Linked DNA regions of Homo sapiens. The protein of the gene in region 1 interacts with the protein of each later gene in a biochemical or structural test. Each region holds a gene or a part of one and is shown in the gene's direction. Other genes may lie near its edges. The genes, in order: PEX7, PEX13, PEX5 and PEX14.

What was found.
Region 2: the proteins of PEX7 (region 1) and PEX13 form a complex in vitro, tested with the Homo sapiens proteins (one study listed by BioGRID).
Region 3: the proteins of PEX7 (region 1) and PEX5 form a complex in vitro, tested with the Homo sapiens proteins (3 studies listed by BioGRID).
Region 4: the proteins of PEX7 (region 1) and PEX14 form a complex in vitro, tested with the Homo sapiens proteins (one study listed by BioGRID).

What each region holds. Positions count from the first base shown.
Region 1 is NC_000006.12:136,818,283-136,825,604, forward strand, and holds the start of PEX7 (peroxisomal biogenesis factor 7), read left to right. Parts: upstream 1-4,309; 5' UTR 4,310-4,383; coding exon 4,384-4,513; intron 4,514-4,615; exon of another isoform or gene 4,616-5,081; coding exon of another isoform or gene 5,082-5,097; intron 5,098-6,931; coding exon 6,932-6,989; intron 6,990-7,322. UniProt on the Homo sapiens protein: Receptor required for the peroxisomal import of proteins containing a C-terminal PTS2-type peroxisomal targeting signal. Specifically binds to cargo proteins containing a PTS2 peroxisomal targeting signal in the cytosol.
Region 2 is NC_000002.12:61,041,715-61,048,738, forward strand, and holds part of PEX13 (peroxisome biogenesis factor 13), read left to right. Parts: intron 1-4,011; coding exon 4,012-4,137; intron 4,138-6,757; coding exon 6,758-7,024. UniProt on the Homo sapiens protein: Component of the PEX13-PEX14 docking complex, a translocon channel that specifically mediates the import of peroxisomal cargo proteins bound to PEX5 receptor.
Region 3 is NC_000012.12:7,185,794-7,192,697, forward strand, and holds the start of PEX5 (peroxisomal biogenesis factor 5), read left to right. Parts: upstream 1-3,892; 5' UTR 3,893-3,957; exon of another isoform or gene 3,958-4,140; coding exon of another isoform or gene 4,141-4,187; exon of another isoform or gene 4,188-4,568; coding exon of another isoform or gene 4,569-4,584; coding exon 4,585-4,731; coding exon of another isoform or gene 4,732-4,821; intron 4,822-5,094; coding exon 5,095-5,130; intron 5,131-5,432; coding exon 5,433-5,565; intron 5,566-5,775; coding exon 5,776-5,907; intron 5,908-6,904.
Region 4 is NC_000001.11:10,470,433-10,477,969, forward strand, and holds the start of PEX14 (peroxisomal membrane protein PEX14), read left to right. Parts: upstream 1-4,517; 5' UTR 4,518-4,534; coding exon 4,535-4,570; coding exon of another isoform or gene 4,571-4,648; intron 4,649-7,537. Other genes in the region: DFFA (DNA fragmentation factor subunit alpha), read right to left, coding at 1,891-2,026. UniProt on the Homo sapiens protein: Component of the PEX13-PEX14 docking complex, a translocon channel that specifically mediates the import of peroxisomal cargo proteins bound to PEX5 receptor.

The sequences.
Region 1 (7,322 bases):
TGTAGCAAAATATACATACCATACAATTTACCATTTTAACCATTTTTAAGCAGACATTTCAGTGATGTTGAGTATATGCACATTGTTATACAATCACTGTCATCTATTTCCAGAACTTCATCTTCCTAAACTGAAACTCCATGCCTGTCACACAATAACTCTCCATTCCCCACTTCCCCTTGCCCCTGGCAACCACCATTCTATTTTCTGTCTGTATCAATTTGACTACACTATGTACCTCATATAAGTGGAATCATACGGTATTTGTCCTTTTATGCCTGGTTTATTTCACTTAGCATAATGTCTTCAAAGTTCATCCATGTAAGAATATCCCTCCTCTTTAGGGAAGAATAATATTCCACCATATGCATATATTACATTCTCTTTATGTGTTCATTTATTGTCTTAGTTGGTTCAGGCTTCTATAACAAACTATCATAAACTTGGTACCTTATAAACAACAGAAATATATTTATCACTGTTTTAGAGGCTGGAAAGTCCATCATCAAGCCATCAGCAGCAGGTTTATGTCTGGTGAGGTCCCACTTTCTGGTTCATAGATGTTCACTTCTTGCCGTGTCCTCACGTGGTGGAAGGGGTAAGAGGGCTCTCTCTCCAGCCTCTTTTATAAAGGTAATCATCTCATTTATGACCTAATTACATCTCAAACACCCCACCTCTTAAAACCATCACATTGGTGATTAAATTTCAACATATGAATTTGGGGGGGACAGAAACTTTCAGACCATAGCATCTGCCAATGGACACTTGGGTTGCTTTCACCTTTTGGCTATTATGAGTAATACTGCTGCAAACAGGAGTGTACGAATATCTGTTTGAATTGCTGCATTTAATTCTTTTAGATATATACCCAAAAGTGGAATTGCGAGATTATATGGTAATTCTATGTTTAATTTTTTAAGCAATTGCTATCCTATTTCCCATATCAGCTGCACCATTTTACATTACCACAGATTCTAAAATTTTTAACAAGAAAGTATAACTAAAATAATAAGTGATGAATGATATAAAACGAGCAAGGTAGACAATTAGCCCATAATTAGAGACTCTCAGAGCTTTAAGGGTCTCTAAAGTGCATCAGTCCAAGTATCCATCATATATTTGAAGATAGTGCTTAAAGTTCTTGGATGATGATTACATTAACCCTCTGGCAAACATTGATTAAAGGCTAACTAGGTACCCAGCACAATGCTGTGCAGAGCTAAAAGGAACAATGAAATTATCCATCCTTTCTTGGAATTATTTCCCATAACTACCATATGCAGCCTGCCGATTTACCTAGGATAATGATTCACCTGGGTAGAAAGACCACGTATTTCAATTATTTTACTTCTGGTCTCTCTCCATGGGAAAGATAGACTAGTTTTAAAAATGATGTGGGTTGGTAAATATTTGCAGTTAGAGTCTTTGTGAGGTCACCATAGCAGTTATAAAACAAAACAATCTAAATATAATTGTAGATCCTTATAGAAACCTGACATCTAGCCATGTCTGCCTACATTATTAGGCCTTCCACAGAGTTAAATGGTCTTCCACAGAGTTGGCCAAGTTTAGAAGTTACACAACTCTGAGGTGTAATGAATGCTCATAAAAAATGGTTTCTGTCTCAGTTGGGAAATACCAAGTACTCCTAAACAATGACAAGAACAGGTGGAAGACAACAAAAAGAGTCTTTTTTTTTTTTTTTTTTTTGAGACGGAGTCTCGCTCTGTCGCTCAGGCTGAAGTGCAGTGGTGTGATCTCAGTTCACTGCAACCTCTGCCTCCAGGGTTCAAGCGATTCTCCTGCCTCAGCCTTCTCCAGAGTAGCTGGGATTACAGGTGCCCACCACCATGCCTGGCTAATTTTTGTATTTTTAGTAGAGACAGGGTTTCACCATGTTGGCCAGGCTGGTCTCAAACTCTTGACCTCAAGTGTTCTGCCTGCCTTGGCCTCCCAAATTGTTGGGATTACAGGCATAAGCCACCATGCCCGTCCCTTCCAGGCAATTCTTAACTCCAATTCTATCCATACCCCTAGCAAACTTGGACTCCACTTAGTAAAGCATGGGTGGAGGAAGGGGTGTGGAGCAAGGGCAGGGGACAAGGAGAATCTAAGGAGCATTTCATGTTCCTTTTCCTTAATTTTCCAGTTCACCTCAAGTTGTCAAACATTTGTGCAGTGTTTACTATATATTGGACATTCTTCAAGGTACTGGAGACACAAACAAATTAGACTTGGACATTACTTCGAGATGCTCAAAATCTAGTGTAAGAGTATGGTTTATTTTTTATATGTTTAGTTGTTTATATTTTAGAAAGCTTCACAGGTGGGATGAAATATTTTACAATGCTATAATCATGTATGGTTAGGTAAGGAGCAGGTAATAGCTCAGTTTGTGTGTGTGTGTGTATGTCCAAGGTCACTGTAAATAGTTTACCCCAGCTGGAACCAGCCTTTCTCCCTCCCAGAGATACCACACTATTTTTAGCTTAGATTGGATAACTCTTTATATACAACTCTTTGCCAAGGTCCCAGCTGCTTCATGTTTGCTTACTTTGATATTTTATTAACGCCTATTTAGCATTTCAATAAACTCCAGAATGTTTCCAGGTTACTTTTTGTAGTATTACGAAAAACACACTGATCATTTAGGCACTGTATTAGGCTGCATTCACTCAACATTTCCTGAATGCTTAAATACCAGGTCCTTGGGATACAACAGCGAACATAACAAGCAAAAATTTCTGCCCTCATGCAGCATACATTCCAGTGACTACATATGATAAAAATCCAAAATAATAGAGGCCACACTGGTCTGGATCCTCAAGTGATCCGCCTGCCTCGGCCTCCTAGTGTGCTGGGATTACAGGTGTGAACCACCGCGCCCGGCCTGCAAAAGTCTTTTAACTGGCCTCCCCATCTCCAAACTCTATCCTCCATATTAGTGTTGCAGGACTTTTTAAAATAAAACCTTGGTCATTTAATTTCTCACATTAGAAAACTTCCACTGTTTTTCACTGTTTACAGTAGAAATCCAATTCTCTTAGTATGGTATATAAGACTCTTCATGATCTAGCCCCAGTAAAACACTCTACAGTCTCCCCACCCAATATTTTTTTCACCGTATCCCTTCCATCTGGCCAGGCTGAGTCCTGGCAGCCACGACCCCCTATGGATCATGCTGGTTTAAATCTCCTGGGTTGCTCATGTTATTCCTGCTCCTACAAAGATCTCCATCTTCTTGTCTACCTAAAGAAAACCTACTCATCTGTGTGCAATCACCATAAAGACTTATCTCTCTTCTGCAGCCTTTCCTGCAATTTCCATACCTCTGGCACGGACAATCACCTTTTAAAAATACCCCATATAAATTTATCATAGCCTCTACAGTATTTTGATTACACTTAACTAATTACATGACTTCTCTTTTAGTCTTCTTCTCTAATCTCTTGAGGCCATGGACCATATCCCATTATTTTGAATCCCAAATGCCTAGTACTGTTCTTGGTATATGGTTAAGATGATCATACGACTTGGTTTGTGCCTGTTGACCTGGCTTAATAATTACACCCTCTTTACTCTCAAAAGTATCTTGGTTTGGCAGATAAATTATATTTGGTCATTCTCCACATAGTATATGCCTGGCAATAAATGAATGAATGAGCACCAGCATCTGAGCACTTATTACCATACAATATATACATGTATAGTAATACTTTTTAAAAAAGTTGTATATGATGATGTGCTGCTTTTTTGCTTAGCTTCATTAGAACTGGCCAGCTCCTTTTTCTCACTTGCCAAGCATGGGGAGTTGGTTTGGAGTTGGTGTTTCATCTTTTCCAGTTACAGTGTGAAAGTAGCCCACCAGCCCACGCTCTTATTCCTAAAGACCGCAGTGACTCCACGGACTTAAGTTCTCATTGCTTCCAGTTTCCTTGGGCAACGCAGCACGCAATTTTGGACGCGCTGCGTGGTTTCAGAGTCGGCTGTAACTTTTCTCACTTTATAATCATCAGGAAAAGTTCCTGATGCCAGTCTTCCAAACGCTCAATGAAATAAAAACCAGATAGCACCGCAGAGGAGGCTGAGATGCAACGACAAAAGCTGTCGTAATTATTAATAATACCTAACCCTGGATCACTCCCCTGATAGATCTGTATCTTTGCAGCAGGCGCAATTCAGTTTGGATTCACCCAAAACAAAAATGGTCTCCGTCGGAGTCAACGCCCTTTCCTGTGCGGACCAATCAGAATCTCAAACACAGGGCACGGGGCCCACACTTCCGTCCGGTCTGCCTGGTCTCTCTAACCGCGCCAGTGTGCCTCCGACTCGGAACGGCTTCCGCGGCCGGGGCAGCGAGGGCCGGGGGCGGCGGGCGGGATGAGTGCGGTGTGCGGTGGAGCGGCGCGGATGCTGCGGACGCCGGGACGCCACGGCTACGCCGCCGAGTTCTCCCCGTACCTGCCGGGCCGCCTGGCCTGCGCCACCGCGCAGCACTACGGCATCGCGGGTGAGGCGGCGCCGCGCAGCTGGGGCCGGGGGGCGGAGGCGGAGGCGGGGGCCAGCCGGGCTCCAGTTCCTCGCGCTCGAGGGAAAGCCCCTCTGAGCGTAGACGGTTCCGCGGGTCCACGCCAGGGGGCAGAAGAGGCGCTGGTCGGCGCTTCTCCTTTCTTTGCCGAGTGCGAGGAGTTGGTCTGAAGCAGGAGTCGATCTTCCAGTTGTGTGCAAGTGCATATACGTGTAGCCTAGTAGCCCGTGTCCTTGTTCCTTGAGACCGCGCTGCCTCCGCCACGTGTCACACGCCCAGGCACACGTCCCCGTAGGGAGAGCCGGGGGAGCCTGCGCGGTCCCTTGGATCGGTCCGCTCGGCACAGCAGTACGGGGAAGACGGTCTGAGCCAGAACCGACCCAGGGCTCGCGAGTTGGCCCACAATTCCCAGTCTGCATTCGAGCACTGAGCTGCGACCTGCGGGCTGGCCTTCCTAAGGACGATGCTCCTGAATGGACGCCTGGAGTCCCACGGGTGACACCATGAAATATATCAAGTTCAGTTCTTACCTGTAGTTGTCTAACGAGGAATGCACACATTCGCAAGTAGGTGTTACAGACTCCAGTTAATTGTCTCCCGTCGCGCGCATTGGCTCAGCCTGTGGTTAAAGCTGCTCAGGAGGCTGAGGCGGGAGGATCGCTTGAGCCCGGGATGTTGAGGCTACAATGAGCTGAGATCACATCACTCTGCCCCAGCCCAGTGAGCTGAGATCACATCACTCCACTCCAGCCTGGGTGACAGACTGAGACCCCGTCTTAAAAAGAAAAAAGGCCAAGCGCCGTGCGGTGGCTCACGTCTGTAATCCCAGCACTTTGGGAGGCCGAGGTGGGCGGATCACTTGAGTTCGGGAGTTCCAGACCAGCCTGACCAACATGGAGAAACCCCATCTCTACTGAAAATACAAAATTAGCCGGGCGTGGTGGCGCATGCCTGTAATCCCAGCTACTCGGGAGGCTGAGGTAAGAGAATAGTTTGAACCCAGGAGGCAGAGGTTGCGGTGAGCCGAGATCGTGCCATTGCACTCCAGCCTGGGCAAGAAGAGCAAAACTCCGTCTCAAAAAAAAGAGTCCATCTAGTCCGTGGACTAGATGAAAAGGCGTAGGTTCATTCTCGCTTTTGCCTTAATTCATGTCCTAGCTATTATACGCACTGAAGCGAGATGCAAAAACTCATTTCATAATGTCAGTGGTCTATTGTATTTTTTTGTTTTGTCCTACAGCAGAAAAAAATGTTACTTCTAAAACTCAGAGAAATACTTGATTTATTTTCATTATTAGCTCTTAGTGCTTGCACATTCAGATTTACATGGCCCACCAGTTAGACTGAAGACTCATGAGTCTATAATGGTAGTAGTTTTCTTTTTTTCTTTTTTCTTTTTCTCTTTAGAGACAGGGTCTCACCCTGTTGCCTAGGTTGAGTAGAGTGGTGCAATCACAGCTCACCGTAGCCTCCACCTCCTGGGCTCATATGATCCTCCTGTCTCAACCTCACCAGTAGCTGGGACCACAGGCATGTACCATCACACCTGGCTAATTTTTGATTTTTTATTTTTGTAGAGACAGGGTATCACTATGTTGCCCAGGCTGGTCCGGAACTGGGTGCAAGCGATCTTCCTGCCTTGGCCTCCCAAAGTGCTGGGATTACAGGCGTGAGCCACTGTGACTGGCCTGTAATGCTACTTAAAATCTTATGCAAAAACTCTTTAAAGGGAATTGGTATTTAAAAAAAAAAATTCAGTCATGTTTAAATAGAAGAGATTTTCCCCCTTGGTCTCTATAAAAAGTAAACATAACTTTTAAAATACAATGGCCCTTTGGTAAAATAATCTTTGACAGGTAACATATTAATACTGTTTTCAGCACTTTATTACCACCAGTTATGTAGTAAATCCCACCAAGTATCTCCGCATTCATATTTTGTTTTAAAATCCTGTGTGAGATGTGTTTTAGATTTACTGGTGAGGAGTGCAGTCCCTGGGGTCTGTAAGCCAGAGGTTTCTCATCTGTCAGTAGGAATGATAACACCAACTTGGAAGGTTTGTGTCTCTGGTGCCTTGTCTGGCTACAGAGTAGGCCCTTAAGTATTTCACCCCCCTGTTAGGTCCATGTCTGAATTCCAATCATAGGTGCAATGGGAAGTTGAATATTTAGTAACTGAAGTACAATATGGAAAAACAGAAATAGAGAACACATTTGGTATTCATGTCCCAAAAACTTTAGGGAGAAATTGATCACCTGACCATTTGGTATTCAAGGTCCCAAATACTTTGGGGAAAAATTTGTGGTATTAAAATCAGGTATCAATTACTTGATAACTCCTTGACTTTCGATGTTACCCTGGCAGGTTCAAAGGGATGACCTTGATTTTTTTTCTCTTTAGGCTGTGGAACCCTACTAATATTGGATCCAGATGAAGCTGGGCTAAGGCTTTTTAGAAGGTAAGGGGGCTGAAATTATTAAAGGTATATATTGTTGCTATTAAAGCCTTAATAGAATTAGGTTTTGACTCTTTGATTAATGTTTTAATATACAGTATAAAAGGAACCTTGGCGTTTGCATAGGATGAAGCTTATTTTTAGCTGATTGTGGTGGTGCGCACCTGTAGTCCCAGCTATTCCCAAGTCTGAGGCAGAAGGATCACTTGAGGCCGGGAGTTCAAGACCAGCCTCGTGGGCAACATAGGAGGACCCCGTCTCTAAAAGAAATTTTTTTTTTTTATGCACAGAGTCTGGCTCTGTCACCCAGGCTGGAGTACAGTGGCGCCATCTTGG
Region 2 (7,024 bases), on another chromosome or scaffold:
TGTCAGTTTTTTGTTTTGCTTTGTCTTTTCAGAAGTGAGGAGATCTGAGAATGTTTTTAGGCTAAAAGAAAGGAGTCAGTAGAGAAGGAGCAGTTATAAATAAGGGAAAGATAGGAGTTAAATGATGAAGAAGCTACTATAGGAAGTAAGAGAGGGTGTGATCTTACGGAACCTGGCAGGTAAAAAGGAAGGACGGTTTTTTATCTGAGTCAAAAGGAGAGGAAATCGGTAATGATACAAAGAGATTTTTGAGGAGAAGCAAAATTGAGGTCCTATTACTTTAGCTCTTAGAGCAGGGGTTGGCAAACCGTGGCTTGTGGGCCAAATCTGGCCTGCTCCTATTTTTGTACAGCTCACAAGCTAAAAATGGTTTTTATACTTTTCAGTTGCTGGGAAATTAAAAGAATGTTTTAAAAATTGAAATAATCTGTGATGTGAAAATTATATAGAATTCAAATTTCATTAATAAAGTTGTATTGGAGCACAGCCACACTTATTTCCATACATATTGTTATGGCTGCTTTTCCACTGTAACAGTGGAATTGAATAGTTTGCACAGAGACTATATGTGAAATTCCGATGGCTTCACTTTTGCTCTGCCCACTACAAATTTCAGTAACTTAGTTATAACTTGATAGCATGATGAGTAATATATACATTGTTATACTACAGTGGGTTTTTTTTGAAATTATGAATTCATATATGACACACAAGAAAAAAGTGTACTTTGAGTGTCATATTTTCAAGGCACAGTATAGTATGAATTATTTCGTTATTGAATTAGATAGTAAAAAAAACTGTATTTATTATACAATGACACTATAGCTATGTTAAATGGCTATACTACATATCAGCATTACCAGATTGAGCACTCATCACAGAAAATCAACAGTCAAAAAAATTAGAAAATTTAAAATGGAATTCTCATCACAGCAGAATTTCCGCATCAAAATAAAAATAAAATAAAATGAGGCTGCAACCAAAATAAGTTCCTGAGAGGTTCATATGTTACCCAAGCAAGGAAACCTGTTTACTCATGGTCATTGCAACAGCCAAAAAAAATATGTCCAGAGAAAGTAAACTTGTTTAAGATTATTAGCTTCTCAGTGAGAACAGTTCCTTGAAGAGTTGATGGCATTTTGAACAACATGGCCAACTTAAAATAAGACAAATGATTTGAATGTTTTTCCTTGGCTCATCATGACCCAATGGATATTAATACTTGCTAAATCTGTTGGCTAAATGTTGTCATCATGGGAGTGAGTTCATTATCTCGAGAGTGAGTTTGTTATACAAGCTAGTTTGGCCCTCTTACTCTCTCGCATGCACTCTTTTGCCATGTGATGCCTCCTGCCATGTTATGACACAACAAGAAGGCCCTTACTAAATGCCCCTTGATCTCGGATTTCCTAGCCCCCAGAACTGTGAGCAAATAAACTTCCATTGTTTACAAATTACCCAGTCTGTAGTATTCTGTTAAAGTAGCATAAAACAAAGACAGGCTGGGTTCGGTGGCTCATGCCTGTAATCCTGGCACTTTGGTAGGCCGAGGCGGGCGGATCATGAGGTCAGGAGATGGAGACCATCCTGGCTAACGTGGTGAAACCCTGTCTCTACTAAAAAAAAAAAAAAAAAAAACAAATTTTCAAAAAAAAGACAGTACTGCTTAGTTGTTTATTTGAGAAATCAATGGTGAATTGGAAATGACTGAAGAATTAGCCTCTATGAATAGTCATGGTTCAACTACAGACAAGAACATTTTCAAAGAAGGTGAAAACACTGATTCCGTACAACCTGAATCTGCTAAGATGTGTTGCACCTGATAATGGTGAAAATTCTAGGTGGAGCAGGAAAAGGCCTAGTTGGACAAAAGTTACAAAGGTTTTGAAAATACAGTTTTTTTGTTTATGGTTATTCATTGTATTATCAGCAGCCACATTGCAGAAAATATTTGAATTTATCATGTGTTATTGAACTAGTAGTGTCAAGGTAAAGTTTATTCACTCTTGTGACATAATCATTGTCAGTTTTGTGAATTTTTGTCAGATACAGAAGCTGAAGATCCCGACTTGCCCTACCGCATGGCAATTCAATGGCAGAACAAGGTTTAAGTTTTATTTTATTTTTTTTGAGATTGAGGCCAAGAATGAAATTTTTCTGAACAGAACTCCTTTTCAGCTATTGTTATTAAACCCATTCAGCTTTGGAAATCACCTTTTACTGCAGACTTAGTTAAATTCTGAGTTCTTTTTGGAGACAGGGTCTTGCTTTGTCAGCCAGGCTGGAGTGCAGTAGCGTGATCATAGCTCACTGCAACCTCACACTCTTGGGCTCACATGATTCTCCCACCTCAGCTTCCCAAGTAGCTAGTACTAGAAGTACACACCACCACACCTGGCCAATTTATTTATTTATTGTGGAGACGAGATTCCACTGTGTTGCTCAGGCTGGTCTTGAACTCCTGGCCTCAAGCAATCCTGCCTTAGCGTCCCAAAGTGCTGAGTGAGATTACAGGCATGAACCACCATGTCCAGCCCAGACTTAGTTATATTCTTTGTTGTTGTTTTCTTTTTGAGACAGGGCCTCACTCAGTTGCCCAGGCTGGAGTGCGTAGTGCAGTCTCGGCTCACTGCAACCTCTGCCTCCCAGGTTCAAGCGATTCAAGCTGAGACTATAGGCGCGTGCCACCACATCTGCCTAATTTTGTTTATTTTTTTGTAGAAACAAGGTTTCCCTATGTTGCCCAGGTTGGTCTTGAACTGCTGGACTCATGCAATTTCCCCTGTCTCAGCCTCTCAAAGTACTGGGATTATAGGCATGCGCCACCATGCCCGGCTAATTTTGTATTTTTAGTAGTAATGGAGTTTCTCCATGTTGGTCAGGCTGGTCTCAAACTCCCGACCTCAGGAGATCCACCCGCCTCGGCCTCCCAAAGTGCTGAGATTACAGGTGTGAACCACCACGCCTGACCTATATTCTTAAGTAATTCAAACGGAAACCACAAAGCAGAACAGTGCTTATATGCAAAACTTATGCTGGAGTAAAGTTTTGACAACACCTAATACAGTTTGACTCACAAGTAATGTCACACTGCTTTATAGACCTCTCAGACTGTCAGAAGTTAACACAAGCAGTATCTCCATTCCCACGCAAGTTGGCAGCAGATACATTTTCCAAGCTTAAGCTATTAATACAATGCCAGAGCATTTTTTGGACCTCCATGCAAGCACAAAGGAAATTTCCATATTTCAAAATCCATTTAACTATGCAATTGAGGAACTTCCACTTAATCTTCATTTGGAAGTGATTAATCTGCAATGTAATAACATGGTAAAAGGCAAATATCAAGAGAAGAATTTAACAGAATTATATTCTGGCCTATTACTCTCCCAACTAATAAATATGCTCAATTAAAACCACATACTCATAGACTCATATTAGGATTTGACATTACCTATCTGTGTGAAAAGGCATTTTCAAAAATGCAGTACCTCAAATTTTATTACAAATTAGAATTAGCAAGTGAATATTTATAATTGATTTCCAATTAAGTGAAATATCCTTCCCCCAAAATATTTCATTCTTCTAAGTAACTTCCAAATAGACCTGTATTACCAAAAAGAAACATGGTTATTATATTTTTAATCTTGTCAATAAATTTATGGAAATTTTGTTTCCTCTTTTTATAAAAGTAATTGCCCAATATCCTGTTTTGCCTCTTGGCTTTCAAAGTCTAAAATATTAACTATCTGACCCTTTTCAGAAAAAATTTGCCAACCCCTGGCTCACGGTAAGAGAGCGGGAAGTTGGAGCTTAAAGAAAGGAAAAAGTTCATAATAGGTATCTTTAGTGGATCTATTGTTGATTTAACATAGTATTCATTATAGTTTTTACTTGGGAGGGGAGGACTTTTCTCTTGGCAAATTTATGCAGTTTGCAAGCCATAGCCAGTGAAATATCTGCATTTTTCTTTTGTAAATTTTATTAACCTAATTTTAATTTGGCTTATAGACAGCATCAACTGGGCAAGTGGTGAGGATGACCATGTAGTTGCCAGAGCAGAATATGATTTTGCTGCCGTATCTGAAGAAGAAATTTCTTTCCGGGCTGGTGATATGCTGAACTTAGCTCTCAAAGGTAATAAATTATGAATAAGTTGGAATTATCTGTAAATTTTGATATTCATAAATGCAGTATTAAAAACTACAACAAAGGATCTTGTTCATTGTTAGTTAACTTAGAGATAGTTACTAGAACTTCTTTTTCATGTCAATTTAGAGCTTCCAAATCTGGAGGAGTCAGGAAGAAATGCCCCAGCAGAGTTATTCGAATACTATTTCACTGAGATAAGGAAAGGCTTTGTTTATATAGGCTTTTCTAAACTCAAAATACTTGAATTTCAAACTGTTAATCCCCACACAAAAACGTGATGTCAGTAACTAAACATAACAAATCTAATAAAGCAAAGGAATTATGTAACATCATCTAAGCATTGCTGTTAGTCCTTGTGGACTGGTGTTGCTTCTTTATTACTTCAGCAGTGTTTACCTCAGAAATTTCATCATAAGTATTTTAGGAAATAGTGTCATGAAGTATTATAGAACCCCAGCAAGAGATTTATACGCATCTCGGGTTTATTTTTGGACCAAGTCACTGATACTTTTTAATGACTCTAGGCAAAATGACCTTTTCCTTCACCCTTCCTGAGTAATGATTATCAGGATTTTTATGGATTTTTTTAAATATGTGTATTTATGGGGATTCAAGTTTATTGCAAAAAGTGATGTTTTGTTGATAAAGGTACTAATAACAATAACATGTTATTTATTGAGTACTTACTATGTACAAGGTACTGTATTTTACATATTTCATTTAAGCCTTACAATAATACGGTGAAGTGGTACTATTATTATCCTGTCATTGTTTTACCCTTGAAGAAACTGAGACTCAGAATAAGTAAATTGTCCAGTATCACAAAGCAAAGGTGCAATAGAACTGGACTATGAATCTAGGTTTGTCTAACTTGAGACCTTGTGCTTTTAACAACTCTGGCTGTTTTTTCATGGAAGGATCTATTTATGGAAACTTCACCCTTTTTTTGGTTTTAGTCATTTTTTGCAGGGAAGAAATACTTTCAATGTTCAAATCATTACTATGTAAATAATTGAAAATTTTGGATGAGATTACTAAATCTTTGCCTCATCCCTTTTACAAAAAACCTAGACTTAAGCGAGGTGCAGTGTGTGCACCTATAGTCCCACCTACTCAAGGGGCTGAGGCAGAAGGATCACTTGAGGCCAGGAGTTTGAGGCTGTAGTACATTGTAATCACACCTGTGGAACAGCACCACTGCACTCCAGCCTGGGCAACGTAGTGTAACCTTGTCTCAAGAAAAAAAAAACAAACCTCTAGACTTTTAGGTATTCTATTTGTATTTTTCTTTCTTTTTTTTTTGTTTTGAGACAGAGTCTAGCTCTGTTGCTCAGGCTCGAGTGCAGTGGCACGATCTTGGCTCACTGCAACCTCCGCCTCCCGGGTTCAAGTGATTCTCCTGCCTCAGCCTCCTGAGTTGCTGGGACTACAGGCACATGCCACCACGACCAGCTAGTTTTTGTATTTTTAGTAGAGACAGGCGTTCACCATGTTGGTCAGGCTGGTCTCGAACTCCTGACCTTGTGATCCGCCCGACTTGGCCTCCCAAGGTGCTGGAATTACAGATGTGTACCACCACGCTGGGCCTATTCATATTTTTCTTATAGGGAAAATAGCAATTTACTATTTTGGATTTCAAACGAATGATTTTTTAAAGATTTGTTGTTAGAGACAGGAACAACACAGATAATTTTAATTAGAGGTCATGTGGTTTCTTTCAGTTACATAACACTTCAGAAAAATTTTATATTTCATTATTCTTCAATGAATAGTGCCTCTTAACACTAGCTTGCTTCTTGGCTTTCCTCCATTGCTCAAGAAAAGTATGTTTGGGCCTTTGGAACAAAATCGGTCGTAGACATGGTAAATTTGTTTTTTCCTGTTATTATAGAGCATTAAACATTAAAAAGTCTTATATTGTGCCTAAATTATAATGTTGAACTAAAATTGTAACAGTTAAGCAGCTTTTTAAAGATATAGATAAAATAGGAAAATACAATAGAAAATTGAGTACATTAAATAATCTTTCTTTAAGCTTAGAGTATTGCCTTTATTTATCATATGGCTAGAAATAACAAAGGTCTTCAATTTTTTGCCCATCTTGGATTGAAATTAATATTTACTGTCTTCAGGATTGTTTATTACAATCACATGAAACGAATTTTATATTTTTGCCAAAAGTAGGCTAAGAAAGCTGAGTGCATTAAAGGTATATCTTTTCTATACTTATTCCTAACTTACCCAGTTGAGAAGGAATAAGATATTCATTTTTTAGACTCCAGTTTAAAATATGAAAGACATTGATGTTAGTTTTCAGTTTTGAGAGAACTAAATCTCCCTACTCTATGAATGGACCAACTGATAATAAACTTTATGTTCTTCAAGGTGGAAGGAAATATTTAGTAAGTATAAAATAAAAATAGAAGAATGGACCCTAGAACTGTTAAGCCTACTCAGCATTTGATTTTGAATATATATGCATGTACTATTTGTTATCTACTATGTAAGCATAACAGATTTTCCTGAATGTGATATTTTACCATTACTATTCTGTTGGACCTCCAAAGTATATTGTAATTACAAGACTGTCTTTTTTTTCCATCAGAACAACAACCCAAAGTGCGTGGTTGGCTTCTGGCTAGCCTTGATGGCCAAACAACAGGACTTATACCTGCGAATTATGTCAAAATTCTTGGCAAAAGAAAAGGTAGGAAAACGGTGGAATCAAGTAAAGTTTCCAAGCAGCAACAATCTTTTACCAACCCAACACTAACTAAAGGAGCCACGGTTGCTGATTCTTTGGATGAACAGGAAGCTGCCTTTGAATCTGTTTTTGTTGAAACTAATAAGGTTCCAGTTGCACCTGATTCCA
Region 3 (6,904 bases), on another chromosome or scaffold:
ATTATCCAAAGGCACCAGGGCCCTCAGTGAGGAACGTATCCAGCCAATACTGGCTTATCTTTATCCCCAAACCCTACTAACTGTTGGATGTGCCTCCCCCTGCACTTCAGGCCATACATTTCAATCCCTGTATCTTTAACCTCCTTGTTAAGTTTGTCTCTTCCAGAATCAAAGCTGTAAAAACTACAAATGGCTCTTCAAATGGAGCCCCAGATGCAGTCCATGACTAAGATCTACTACAGACCCCTGGACCTGCTAGGCCATGCTCTGATGTTGATGACATCAAAGGCACCCCTGCTGAGGAAATCTCAACTGCATGACCTACTATGCCCCAATTCAGCAGGAAGCAGTTAAAGCAGTCGTTGGCCAACCTCCCCAACAGCACTTGGGTTTTCCTGTTGAGAGGGGGGACTGAGAGACAGGACTAGCTGGATTTCCTAGGCCAACTAAGCATTCCTAAGCCCAGCTGGGGAAGATGACTGTACTCACATTTAAACAGGGTGCTTGTAACTCAGCTCACACCTGACCAATCAGGTAGTAAAGAGAGCTCACTAAAACACCAATTAGGCTAAAAGCAGGAGGTAAAGAAATAGTCAATCATCTATTGCCTGAGAGCACAGGGGGAGGGACAATGATCGGGATATAAACCCAGGCATTTGAGCTGGCAGTGGCAACCCCCTTTGGGTCCCCTCCCGTTGTATGGGAGCTCTGTTTTCACTCTATTAAATCTTGCAACAGCAAAAAAAAAAAAAAGAAAAGAAAAGAGTTTTAGACATATGACTTTAAGAGGATTAAGAAAATTGAATAAATGTTTATAAGTTTGATTTATTAAAGGGTTGAATAAAAGTTCAGAAAGGTTTTGCCTAGTAGTGTTGTTTGCCCTGTCAGGTATTTAAAATATGAATATTAAATGTCACATAGTTAAAAATATTAGGAAATTTGTCTTTTATTTCTAAAAAGCAGAAGTACAGCACAGTGTTTAAGAGCATGGACTCTGGAATAAGACTGTGTAGGTCAAAGATCCACAAACTATGGCCTGGTCCCTGTTTTTCCATAGTCTGCAAGCTAAGAAGTATTTGACGTTTTTTGGCTGGGCACGGTGGGTCACATCTGTAATCCCAGCACTTCAGGAGGCCAAGGGGGGTGGATCATCTGAAGTCAGGTGTTTGAGACCAGCCTGACCAACATGGTGAAACCCCATCTCTACTAAAAATACGAAAATTAGCTGGGCATGGTGGCATGTGCCTGTAGTCCCAGCTACTCGGGAGGCTGAGGCAGGAGAATCACTTGAACCTAGGAGGTAGAGGTTGTAGTGAGCCGAGATTGCGCCACTGCATGCCGGCCTGGGTGACAGAACAAGACTGTCTCAAAACAAATAAGTATTTGACATTTTTAAATAGTTGGAAAAACATCAAAAGAAGAAGAATATTTTGTAACATGAAAATTATATAAAATTCACATTTCAGTCCCCATAAAAAGCATTACTGGAATACAGCCATGCTCATTTGTTTAGGTGTGGCCTATGTCTGCTTTTGTGCTCCAACAGCAGGGTTGAGTCACTGTGACAGAGACTGCATGGACTACAAAGCCAAAAATATTGACCATTGAGCCCTTTACAGTTTGGTGACCGTGGTCTGGGTTCAAATCCCAGCTCTGCTATTTATTAGTATGACCTTGTGCAAGTCACTCAACTTCTCTGTGCCTCAGTTTCCTCTTTTGTAAAATGGGGGATAATAGTTATTATTAATAACTATTAGGAGGATTAAATAAATCAATAGTTGAAAAGTGCTTGAAACAATGCCTGGCACACAGTCAATGCAATGTGTGTCTAAACATCTATTGAACTTGAATTCGTCAAACATTAAAGAATAAGTAAAAATTATTTTTATTTTATAAAAATTACTACTTTTATGAATAGAACAAGAATTTAAAGTTGAACCTGGATTAACAAAATCTAGGGTTTCAAATCTAGAGCTTCAGTAAATTAAATATTAAACACCAAAGTCACTCTATTAGCCCTTTCCCAGCACCTCTGGCTGGGACTGTGGACCAAGTTCTGTGAATGATTCTATGGCCTAGGAGATCAAAGATCTCCATGGTTTATCAGTAAGTCTTCTCTAAGACTGGGAAGTAGGTGCCTAGAGTTATGCCTGGATTAAATTTTGACTTCCTAGCCATCTGATTTTGCACAAGTCTTATCTGTAAAGTGGGTCTACTAATATCTATTTAATAGGGGTATTAAGAAGATTAAAAACATTGAGATACATAAAGTGTTTTACACAACACCTGGATTTTAGTAAACATCAGTTATTATTATTAGCATTCTTCCAAGATCTGCACACAAAGTGAGTTACGGCTAATCAGTTGATAAACTCCTAGCAGAGCAGAAGGTTATGTGTGTTGTGATGTTTAAGTGGTACTGGGAAACTCTGGTTGCCTTGAGGTTCTGAAATTCTACTGTATCAGATGGGTTCCTTTAAACATTGCTCTCTCTAGGGGGTCCTCTTTTTAAAAGTATGCACCTTCTGGAGGGCATCTCTTCATCCTTGTGTGGTTTAGTTTATCAGGTATTTTCCTCACGATGGCAGCCTGAGAACAGGGGACGCCCAAGGGCTGGGATTTGTGTGCTCCGGAAGAAAACGGGGTGTAGAAGTGGGGCCTCTGAAAGAGGGCGAAAAGGCAAGGAAAAGGAGAAATGTTGCACAGTCTTATGGTCTGTCCCCTGCCATTCTGTTCCCCTGAGGTGTCAGAGCAGCTTCTCTGTCTTCCCAGGGATGAGTTTACACAGACATTCCCTGTGGCCCCCTGAGGCCTCCACCTCTGAAATCTGCAGAACAGCCAGGAAACAAGCCCGGCCCATGGCGCCACCTGCTGCCTGCCTGCCTCCGCTCATGCACCCTGGGCTGGGATGGTACTTCTGTTCGTCTGGCATTATTGCCCTTGGTCATTTACCGGCAGCCCTGGGCCCCTCCTTGCTCTTCTCCATGACACTAGGACTCCCTTGGTCTTGAAGCTGGGTGAGATTATCAGGGTTTGTTTCTCAATGACTTTGAGGTTTGACAGCAGAGCACACTCTTTGGCAGATGAGGGGGCTTGAGGCTTAGTCTTATTCCGTGATTAAAAGCATTTCTTGTATGTTTGTCCTTTCCCAGCCTGGAGTGATGGGAATAAGGCCACTATGTTGACTTAGCGGAAGGAAGGGCTGACTCACTGTTCACCTTCCCTGTACGTTACCAGCTCGAGGTCTCAGGATGCGTTGGACCCTATTTTGGTCTCCGGAATTTGTCATCATGCAGTGCTATTTTCCCCATTATGCAGAGGTGGAGAGGGATTAAGGCGGGGGCGGGCCCCTGTCTCCATGGAGACAGTGACGCTACCCCGCTAGGGGTTATTTGGAAGCGGGGCAGGCCTAGGAGGCTGAAGAAGGCTTCGGACTGGACTCCCCAGCCCCTGGTGTTAGGGCTTTTCTCTTTCTTGGGCTTGGGAACATTAGCCAGCCCCATTTTAGAGGGGAAAACTGAGGCTCAGAAAGGGCACTGAATCCCCTTAGGTCACAATGCGCCCAAGGGAAGAGGCAGGATCGACTGAGCCTAGGATCTCGCGTCTTCGGCTTTCCCCCAGAGCCTGGGAAGCCCTTCTTAGCTCCACTCTTCTTTGAGCTTTCCGTCAAACAAATCCTAGGGCCCGTGGCCTTTTCGAGCGCTCCTAAAGGCGACTCTCCAAGACCCGCTCTCTAAGGTGCTCTTCCCCTTTAAGACTCACGGCTCTTCCCGTCAGGCTGCGTCGCAGTCTTAAGGCCCCGCCTTTTCAGACAGCTTCCGCTGGGCCTGGGCCGCTGCGGGGCGGTCACGGCCCCTTTAAGCCTGAGCCCCGCCCCCTGGCTCCCCGCCCCCTCTTCTCCCCTCCCCCAAGCCAGCACCTGGTGCCCCGGCGGGTCGTGCGGCGCGGCGCTCCGCGGTGAGCGCCTGACCCCGAGGGGGCCCGGGGCCGCGTCCCTGGGCCCTCCCCACCCTTGCGGTGGCCTCGCGGGTCCCAGGGGCGGGGCTGGAGCGGCAGCAGGGCCGGGGAGATGGGCGGTGGGGAGCGCGGGAGGGACCGGGCCGAGCCGGGGGAAGGGCTCCGGTGACTTAAGGGGAGGGAATGCTCCTCTGCCGTGCTCACCGCGTGCTGGGGCTGCGCGGGGCTAGGTATGGTCGGGCTGTTTTCCCACTGTCCCTTCTTCGGGCAGTGTCGCCGTCCAGCCTGGTTGTTGAAGCGTCCCCGTGGTCCCCCGGGGTCCAGGCCCCTTTGTGGAGGCAGCTGCTGGCCCCCAGCCCATGGGACCGTAGTCGCGGAGGCCTCTGCAGAGGCGCAGGCTGGAAGCGGTGGCCTTTGAGGGGGGCGGCAGGAGAGAGTACCGACCTCCCTCGAACTCCTGGCAGAGGTGGGGGTCGCAGCAAAAGCACTGGGGTGGAGGGCGGCCAGTGTGGGGCAGACGCCTGTGTGCCTTCCTCAGATACGGGCAGAGTTGTGGATGTGAGAAGGGTCTGGCTTGGGTACCTCAGTTCCAAACCTCCTGTGTCCATCAGAGAGCTGGCGGTCACCATGGCAATGCGGGAGCTGGTGGAGGCCGAATGCGGGGGTGCCAACCCGCTCATGAAGCTCGCCGGGCACTTCACCCAGGACAAGGCCCTTCGGCAGGAGGGATTGAGGCCTGGCCCCTGGCCCCCCGGAGCCCCGGCCTCTGAGGCAGTGAGTGTTCTTGAGGTGGAAAGCCCAGGTGCAGCCTCTGAGGCAGTGAGTGTTCTTGAGGTGGAAAGCCCAGGTGCAGCCTCTGAGGCAGTGAGTGTTCTTGAGGTGGAAAGCCCAGGTGGTGGTGGTCTGAGGTGGAGGGGCTGTTTGCACATCTTGGTATAACTGCTTTCTCTATTGTGTTGCAAATCATAGTAGTTACCACTTACTGAGCGTTTATAAACACTAGAAAACCCTGTGCACCTTTAAATAAATGCAACCATTTTATAGATGAAGAAGCCGAGGCTCAGATGCCTATGGGCTTCATCAACCCCTGATTTTAGAGGAACTGCGTCATTGTACATCTCTGTCTTTCTCTCTTAGGCCTCCAAGCCTTTGGGAGTAGCTTCTGAAGATGAGGTAAATAGACCAGTCTCTTTTCTGTCCCATTTTTCTCTTGCCCACTGTGTTTTTACCTTTAAACTTAGTTCACCCGTATTTCAATTTTTGGGCTTTCCTGACCGAATGAGAATGCCTGCTTGTTTTTAAATGTATTTTTTCGTCCTTCTAAATCTATGGAAAGACAGTTTCTCTTTATGTGTCTCCAGTTTCTGTGTTTTCCTTTCCTTGTATCTAACATTGGGATCCCCCTCCAGTGGGTCCTGCCTCTTGCTGGGGCCTCCCAAGCCTATGGGTTCATTTCATCATTTCCCTTCTGGCAGTTGGTGGCTGAATTCCTGCAGGACCAGAATGCACCCCTTGTGTCCCGTGCCCCTCAGACCTTCAAGATGGATGACCTCCTGGCTGAGATGCAGCAGATTGAGCAGTCAAACTTCCGCCAGGCTCCCCAGAGAGGTGAGTCCAGAGTCTAGTGGGAGGGGAGATCGTTTTCCATGTAGCCAGGGCCAAGGAAGGGGGTTCCATTGGATGCTGCTGGCATTGGGGACCTGAGATGCAGAAGGAGACAAAAGTAACAGAGTGTTTTCACGTGGATTCAGGGTTCTTTAGGCATGATGGAATGGTATGTATGTATTCTTTCTTAGTTTTCTCTCTCTCTCTTTTAAGCCCCTGGTGTGGCAGACTTGGCCTTGTCTGAGAACTGGGCCCAGGAGTTTCTTGCAGCTGGAGATGCTGTGGATGTAACTCAGGATTATAATGAGACTGACTGGTCCCAAGAATTCATCTCTGAAGTTACAGGTGAAACTTGTTATGGGAAAATCTATATTGGCTTCTATGGGACAGAATTCTATACCCTTCCCCTGTTCACGTTATAGTGTGATTACGATTTTTCTGGTCTCATGACTCATTTCTAGAGGGGTAGGGTACTGAACTCAATTTCCCTTAGGTGATAACGGAATGTAATGTATATTAAAGAGAGGACTGGGTTTGTACTGGATAAGAGATTTTGGATAGAGAGAACGAAGAGTTTGGTTGGCCTTTTTACTTTATCACTGTGGTTTAGTGGAGAGGATCTACAGATTGGATGGATGGCAGTGTTGCCGAGGAAGAGAGTATTCACTACAGCACCTGGGATTCTGGCCTTAAGTTATTTGGAACAGAATTGGGGCCTTCAGAGTGTTATTGTGAAGTTCCAGTGCCTGAAGTGTATGGCTTTAGAAGGTAAAGACCATACCATGATGATGATAATAAAAATTAATAACAATAGTTACGTTCTAGGCCTTGTGTTACATGCTTTGAATGCATTATCTACTTACTCTCCATGAGAACCCTAGAGGTAGTTACTGTTTTTAGACCTAGTTTAAAGATAAGAAAATTGAGGCTTAGAGGTGAAGTGTGCCCAAGGTTACACAGCTTTGTCAGTGGTAGAGTTGGGATTTGATCCTGGATTTGAATGATTCCTGACCCTGTGGCCTTAACTGTGATGCTATACTGTCAGGCCTGCAATTTATCTTCTTTCTTGCTTTGCTACAGACTTAAAGGTTTCAGCCTAATTTTTCCTCTTTGAAAGCATCCATTGCTCCTGCATCTTTTATGATTGATTCTTCTTGCCCTAAGCCTATCTAATCAGGTACATGGTGGGAAGGGCAGTCTCTTCAGCTTTCCTCTTCCTGATTGCTCTCAAAAGTTAGCCTTTTTCCTGTTTAAGATATCAAGAATAACAAGAGATACACATAGAGAAAGTTACCAAGTTCCAGGATCTCGGGGAGTCACATCATCATGGTTCCTGAATTTT
Region 4 (7,537 bases), on another chromosome or scaffold:
TTTTTTTTTTGAGACGGAGTCTCACTCTGTCGCCCAGGCTGGAGTGCCCAGGCGCTATCTGGGCTCACTGCAAGCTCCGCCCCCCGGGTTCACGCCATTCTCCTGCTTCAGCCTCCGGAGTAGCTGGGATTACAGGCGCCCACCACCACGCCCGGCTAATTTTTTTGTATTTTTAGTAGAGACGGGGTTTCACCGTGTTAGCCAGGATGGTCTCGATCTCCTGACCTCGTGATCCGCCCACCTCGGCCTCCCAAAGTGCTGGGATTACAGGTGTGAGCCACCGGACCCGGCCCTCAGGTGTCCTCTTAAATTCTCCTATGTGTAAAAATGTCAAAAAATACACCAAAAAGGCCAGGCACGGTGGCTCACGTCTGTAATCCCAGCACTTTGGGAGGCCGAGGCGGGTGGATCACAAAGCAGGCAATCGAGACCATCCTGGCTAACATGGTGAAAAACCGTCTCTGCTAAAAAATACAAAAAATTAGATGGGCGTGGTGGTGGGCGCCTGTAGTCCCAGCTACTCGGGAGGCTGAAGCAGGAGAATGGAGTGAACCCGGGAGGCGGAGCTTGCAGTGAGCCGAGATAGCGCCACTGCACTCCAGCCTGGGTGACAGAGTGACACTCCGTCTCAAAAAAAAAAAAAAAAAAAGAAAATGCTTTTTGTTCTTTACAGTATCTTCCTTAGCAGCTTCTTTTCTAACCTATGGGAAAGTATAAAAGAAGTGGAAGCTTCTATCAGTAGCTTTTCATATCATTATCATTGGCGGAGAGGCTTTCTCCAGGACAGGTCTGTACTATTCCATTTAGTGATAGCAATGCTTCAAATACTAACGGGACTGGAGTGATCAGAAATAGCCAAGAGACTACAAATATCCTTCAGCGGTGTTGTCTACCACCCAATAGAACAGCAAGGCATGTATGCGCTGGACTGCAGAGAACACCAGCCTCTGTGCCACGCACATCCAGCCACGGCACTGAAGGGGAATTAGAAGTAAAGTAATCTAATGTCAGGAAAAAAAATACATAAATGCTTATATGCAAAATCCATGTTACCAAAGCATTTATAATGCTTTGGCTGTTCATGGGTCTCTGAAAATTTCCATATGATTTCTGTTGGTGACTGAGAGGAAGCAACTGTGCCCTCTGACACACACTGTGACTACATGCCTGGGGCTGGCTCACACATGTAACCTGTAAAACTTCTTTGGGTAAGCGATTTGTTGCTACTGGCTAATAAGACTTGTAAGTCACTTAAATATATCATCTTATTTGAGAGAACCAACAACCCTTTGAAGCAGGGCTATAAATATTATACCCAATTTGCTGATGAGAAAACTGAGGGTTGAGAGCTGGTTAAGTGCAAGGCCAAGCAGCTGGTAAAGGTATGGGGCCGGGCTCGGAACTTCCGTCGGCTCCGTCACTTACAACTCACGTTCCTTGTCTGGACCTCCAGAAATGGTCAGTAGCAGCTCCCTCTTTCCTGCATAGGTTCCTGCCAGAGCGGACGGTGGAAACCCCTCCCCACACCGCCGTGGGCTCAGCTGGGGGTTCTTGTACCATCTGAGTGTGGCGGAGTGGCAGGAACCCAGTGGGGTCCGTTTGGTCCAACATCGAAGTGATTTCAGGCAAGAGACCTAAGCCGAGTCTGGCTTAATTTGCACATTGCTTCCTGGCTGTCTTCCCACCACCGTGGAGTCTCACACGAGATTAATTACGCTCAAGCGCCTTAAATCTGTAAATCGCTATGCCCACTCGGACCGTTTCTGTCCCAAGCCTCCACCCGAGATACAAGAATCCCCAAGTCGCCTCTCCTGACCCCGCCTCGCCCCCGCCGGACGTCCTCACCCGGCCCTGGCTCCCCCACACCCTCGCCCGGGGTCCCGAGCCAACCCTTGCTCCTCAGGTCTTCGAGGCAGGAGGCGGCCACGCCGTGCTGTTCGCGGCTGTAGTTGCGGCGCAGCAGACACGGCTTTAGAGTCCGGATCTCGCCAGATTCTGGTACCCCGGCGTCCCCGGTCACCTCCATCCTCCACAAGGTGGGACCTGCCCACCTTCGAGAAGTCGCGGGAGGCCGGAGCGGCGGTCCTTCTACTCGACCCCCTTCCGCAGCCTGCCGGGAGATGTAGTTCGTTCCGCAGCAAATCACACGTGAGACCAGGGCACGCCGGGAAATGTAGTTCTAGTTGCCGCTAATCACGTGTGGCGTCGAAGCATGCCGGAAACTGTAGTCTCTGGGTTTAAAGCCGCTTTCGTTCTATCGCGCGATTCAGCCTAGGAGTTGTTTTTAACTTTTAGGAGCTGCATTCGCGCGTTCAAATATAAGGCCAATAGAGACTTATTTTGCATGACGATGCACACGCATGTATACTGTATTGAATTTTTAGAGCATTCCTATTCGCATATGAGATGCATAATGCTAATACAGACACCCGCATGTTTCCACCCATTCTATTTCCTGCTTCAACTGTGCAAATTAGTTTGGGGTCTCAGAACAAAACGCTTAAATAAATATAGTAAGCATTAAAGTCTCAAATGCATCGGAGAGGAAAGGGGAAATGCGACTCGGCACTGTTGGAGATTGTTCAGATGCCTCTTGACAACATATTCATCTTTGTTTTAATACTGCTACTATGGAAAAGTTTGTTTTTTTCCTCCTGAAAAATAAACATCTAAGATTAAAAGAATAGTAATAAAAATGATCAAAAAGTTCCTCTCTTAAAAGAGGGCATTTTATGTAAACTAGAAGTAATTATCTGCTCATATTTATTCATTCGGGGGACACTTTCCTTCCTTGTTTCTTTTTTCTTTTTTTGAGACAGCGTTTCGCTCTGTCTCCCAGGCTGGAGTGCAGTGGCGCGATGATGGCTCACTGCAGTTTTGATCTCCTGGGCTCAAGCAATCCTCCCACCTCATATTTTGTTTATAAAAACGTGGGCAAGGGCCCCGGGGGCGGTGGCTCACCCCTGTAATCTCAGCACTTTAGGAGGCCGAGGCGGACAGATGATCTGAGGTCAGTAGTTTGAGACCAGCCTGGCCAGCATGGTGAAACCCTATCTCTACTAAAAATACAAAAATTAGCCGGGCGTGATGGCGCACGCCTGTAGTCCCAGCTCTTGGGAGGCTGAGGCAGGTGAATCGCTTGAACCCGGGAGGCGGAGGTTGCAGTCGGCCCAGATCGCACCATTGCACTCCAGCCTGGGCGTCAGGAGCAAGACTTCGTCTCAAGCAAAAACAAAAACAAAAGCAAAAACAAACAAAAAAAACGTGGGAGAGGAAATTGGATATTATCTCAAGAAAAGTTTAGACATTTAAAACAGCGTTTAGTAGGAGGAATTATTCATTAAGTCATCCCTTTTAAGCAGTCTATATTGATCAAAACACAACTATAATAGGAGCTGGCGGTTAACTCTAATGTATGTATCCTTTTTCATATAATTTCATTTTTTATTTTCTTATCTTATTTTTAGACAAGGTCTCGCTCTGTCGCCCAGGCTGGAGTGCAGTGGCATAATCATAGTTCACTGCAGCCTCAACCTCCTGGGCTCAAGGGATCCTCCTGCCTTGGCCTCCTAAAGTGTTGGGATTACAGGTGTGAGCCACTGCTCCCGTCCAATATTTAATTTAAAATCTAACAATTAAAAAAATCTAACAATTCAACCAGTGTAAAATAATGACGTTTTGTAGAAGCCTCTTCTCTTCAAAATGCCCCCTTTTATGTTCTCCCAATAGACCTGCACACTTATCCGAGTCCTATCCCCATAATACTGTAATTGTAAGTGTGTTTGGCCTGGGCGTGGGAGTAGGGATTGAGTCTTGAATGTTTTTATTTCAAGGCCTACCAAAGTCCCTAGCATATAGTAGGCACTCAATGAATGGAACTGAACTGATGTCTAAAAATTAATTTCCAAGTTTCTTCGCATTCATCCATTGGCAAGTCCCTAAATGTGCCCATGGCACTGTGGGGATGGGCAGAGATTAACTCAATAAGAATAATATGGGCCGGGCGCTGTGGCTCACTTCTGTAATCCCAACACTTTGGGAGGCCGAGGCGGGCAGATCACCTGAGGTCGGGAGTTCGAGAGCAGCCTGACCAACATGGAGAAACTCCATCTCTACTAAAAATACAATGTTAGCCGGGCATGGTGGCGCATGCCTGCAATCCCAGCTACTCGGGAGGCTGAGGCAGGAGAATCACTTGAAACCGGGAGGCTGAGGTTGCGGTGAGCCGATATCGCGCCATTGCACTCCAGCCTAGGCAACAAGTGCGAAACTCCGTCTCAAAAAAAAAAAGCAAAACCAGAATAATACACATATAACAACGCAAAGAAGATATAGACTTGGGATCTTCCTGGAAAGCAGAGTCTTAACGGAAACTATGCAAGGTGACCCGGACACCCGGGCTCCACCCCTCTGCCCCAGTCCCCTACATCGACAGGCTCTGTTCCGGCTACCTTAGTCTGGGCGGGAGGGCGAGAGCGAGGGCGCCTGGGAGAAACCTCGCCCAGCGGCGGTTGATTAGTCAGGCCTCAGAAAGATGGCGTCCTCGGAGCAGGCAGAGCAGCCGAGCCAGGTAAGGGGAGTGGGACTGCCCCGCTGTGCGGCGGAGACCCCGGCTGGAGGGGGCGCTCAGCATACGGCTGGGAGCCGGGTAGGGACCCCGAGTCTCCGAAGCTGGGGACCCCGACCTCTTGCCCCCTCCTGAGCCCCGCCCCTCCCCAGGTCCTCCCCACCCGGCCCCTCCCCCCGGTGACCCCTCTTTGACCACATTCCGGAGCCCGGGCTCTGGTGTTTGGCTGTGCCCCCGGGTCCCCACTTCCCGCCTGCCAGCACCTCTGGTCCCACTTGAGCTTGTTGGGGAGGGTGACGGGACCCTTGGGAAGTCCCCAGCCTTGAGCTGCGAGGGCTTGAGAAGGAGAGGATAGATCGATCGTTCCCGGCTGTCCCCTCCGGGGAGGGGCCTGTTTCCATTAGGGTTCCCACTCCCTCACGGCCTCAGCCTCCTGGAGCGGCTGCCAGCCTCTTCATCTGTGGTCACCTTTGCGCTTCTCTCGTCAAGTTGGATAGTCAGAAATAATCTAGTCGAGCCCTCTCAGTGCGTTGATAGGAAAGGGACGCACTGTGACTAACAGACGCCACCAAGCTTTTGGCTGAGGACCCATCCTCGCTTCCCTGGGTTTGGTTTTGTTGGCCGAGGGCTCCGCTCTAGCTTTTCACCTGCAGATTCAGACAAATCCCACTCCAATAAGGGGACCATAAGGACCAGCGTTGACGCCTGTGCCTCTGCGGCCGGGAGGCAGTGGATGATAAGGTCTCCGAAGGGGTTTATAGTCCAAAGGTGGGGTAGGGTGGGGTGAGGAGAAAAGGGCTAAGAGACATCTTACATTTAACTGCCTGTGTGGTGTCATGTTGAGCACAAATTACATCTATTATCTCGTTTAGTGTTCACTACAACCTTTATGAAGTGCAGGCTACTAACCTCCATTTCACAGAAATGAATACTAAGGGTTTGTGACATGCCCCAAATCGTGTGCTCTGTTGAGCCTGTATTGAACCTGTGTGACTCCACTAGTCATCCATACATTTTTGAGTTTAGTTAGGATTAGAATGAGGAAGAAGAAAATAGTTTCAACTTGGGGCCTCATTCCTCCTCTCCCATCTCCTTGAAGCACCTCTAAGAGTTTTCAGCAACTTACTAGTATTTCACTTCCTTCAGAGGCAGAAGACCACCGCTTAGTGTTTCTTACTGTCTTATTCTGCACGTCTGTTACAAGAATTGAACTTAAAGGAGTTGGTGTGTTCCCCCATACCAGTTTCTATTAGCAGTGTGAATGATTCAGGAAGAAGATGTCTTGATTGTAAAACATGGGAGATAACAAGGACTGATTCTGGCCTTCTCACTGTCAGGTGTTCTGGAGTTTGGCAAGTGTCTCGAGAGGAGGGCCTCTCCTTTCTTGCCTTACCACATTTAGTTTGCTGAAATACTAAGGCATCTTGGGGTCTGGGTTTCTCTGAATTGTTTTGTGTTAGGAATGCCCACAGGCTGGGATTGAAGGGTGTCCTCAGTTCCTGATTCTTTTTTCTTTCTTAAGACGGAGTCTCTCTCTGTCGCCCATGCTGGAGTGCATTGGCGCAATCTCGGCTCACTGCCTCCCGGGTTCGAGCAATTCTCCTGCCTCAGCCTCCCAAGTAGCTGGGACTACGGGTGCCTGCCACCACACCTGACTAATTTTTGTAATTTTAGTAGCGATAGGTTTCACCATGTTGGCCAGGCTGGTCTTAAACTCCTGACTTCAAGTGATCTGCCCGCCTCAGCCTCCCAAAGTGCTGAGATTATATGCGTGAGCCACCGTGCCCGGCTCTGTTCCTGATTCTTATAGGACATTTAATTTGCCAGTGCTGTAAACAGTACTAAAAATCTTGCCACTTGGAGCCACTGTTATGCCCAAGGATTCTTTTGGTTTTGCAAGTTTGCCCTCTCTGTATATGTATTTAATAGAAAAGGATCTAAGGTCCTTTAAGGGGGCATGGCCATCACTTGTTTGATTTTCAGCTCTGCTTCTCCTTTGCCCTCCTTTCCAAAGCTGGTGGAGGTAGGATTGCCACAGAACATGCTGGCAGCCTGGGGGAAAAACTTGAACTTTTCTTTTTTTTTTTTTGAGACAGAGTCTCGCTGTGTCACCCAGGCTGGAGTGCAGTGGCGCGATCTCTGCTCACTGCAACCTCCGCCTCCTGGGTTCACGCCATTCTCCTGCCTCAGCCTCCCTAGTAGCTGGGACTACAGGCGCCCGCCACCATGCCCAGCTAATTTTTTGTGTTTTTAGTAGAGATGGGGTTTCACCGTGTTAGCCAGGATGGTCTTGATCTCCTGACCTCATGATCCGCCCACCTCAGCCTCCCAAAGTGCTGGGATTACAGGCGTGAGCTGCAGTGCCTGGCCAAAACTTGAACTTTTCATAACAGACTCTATGGCTATCTAACAAGAAGCAAATGCACGCTTTTTGAATGAACCAATGCTCTTCAGCAATTGCCTGTTTCATTTTCAAGTCTTGATCAATCCAGTTTCCCATTTCTCCGATTAAAGCAGAGTAGGATTGAAAGGATTGTTTAGCTAATTCCCCCACGCCTTGTTGTGTAGGGTTAGAACTGTGGGGCTGAGCCAGTATTCTGTCTTTCACAGAAAGTTTGTTGGTTAGCCTTGTCATATCAATCTCTGGTTTCCAGCTATTAAAGGTGAATAACCTTCTCTTCCCTTGAGAGGCAGTGTAGAATAGCGGTTACAAGTATAGGCTCTAAAGCCAGACCCACTGGCTTGGAATCCTAACTCCACTAACTTACCAGCAATGTCATCTCGGACAGATCTACTTAATTTTTCTAGACTTAATTTCTCCATGTGCAAAACAGGGAAAATACTAGGACCTATCTCACAGAGTTGCTCTGAGGACTAAATGAGTTATTTATTTATTTATTTATTTTTGAGACCGAGTCTCACTCTGTTGACCAGGCTGGAGTGCAGTGGCGCGATCTCGGCTTACTGCAA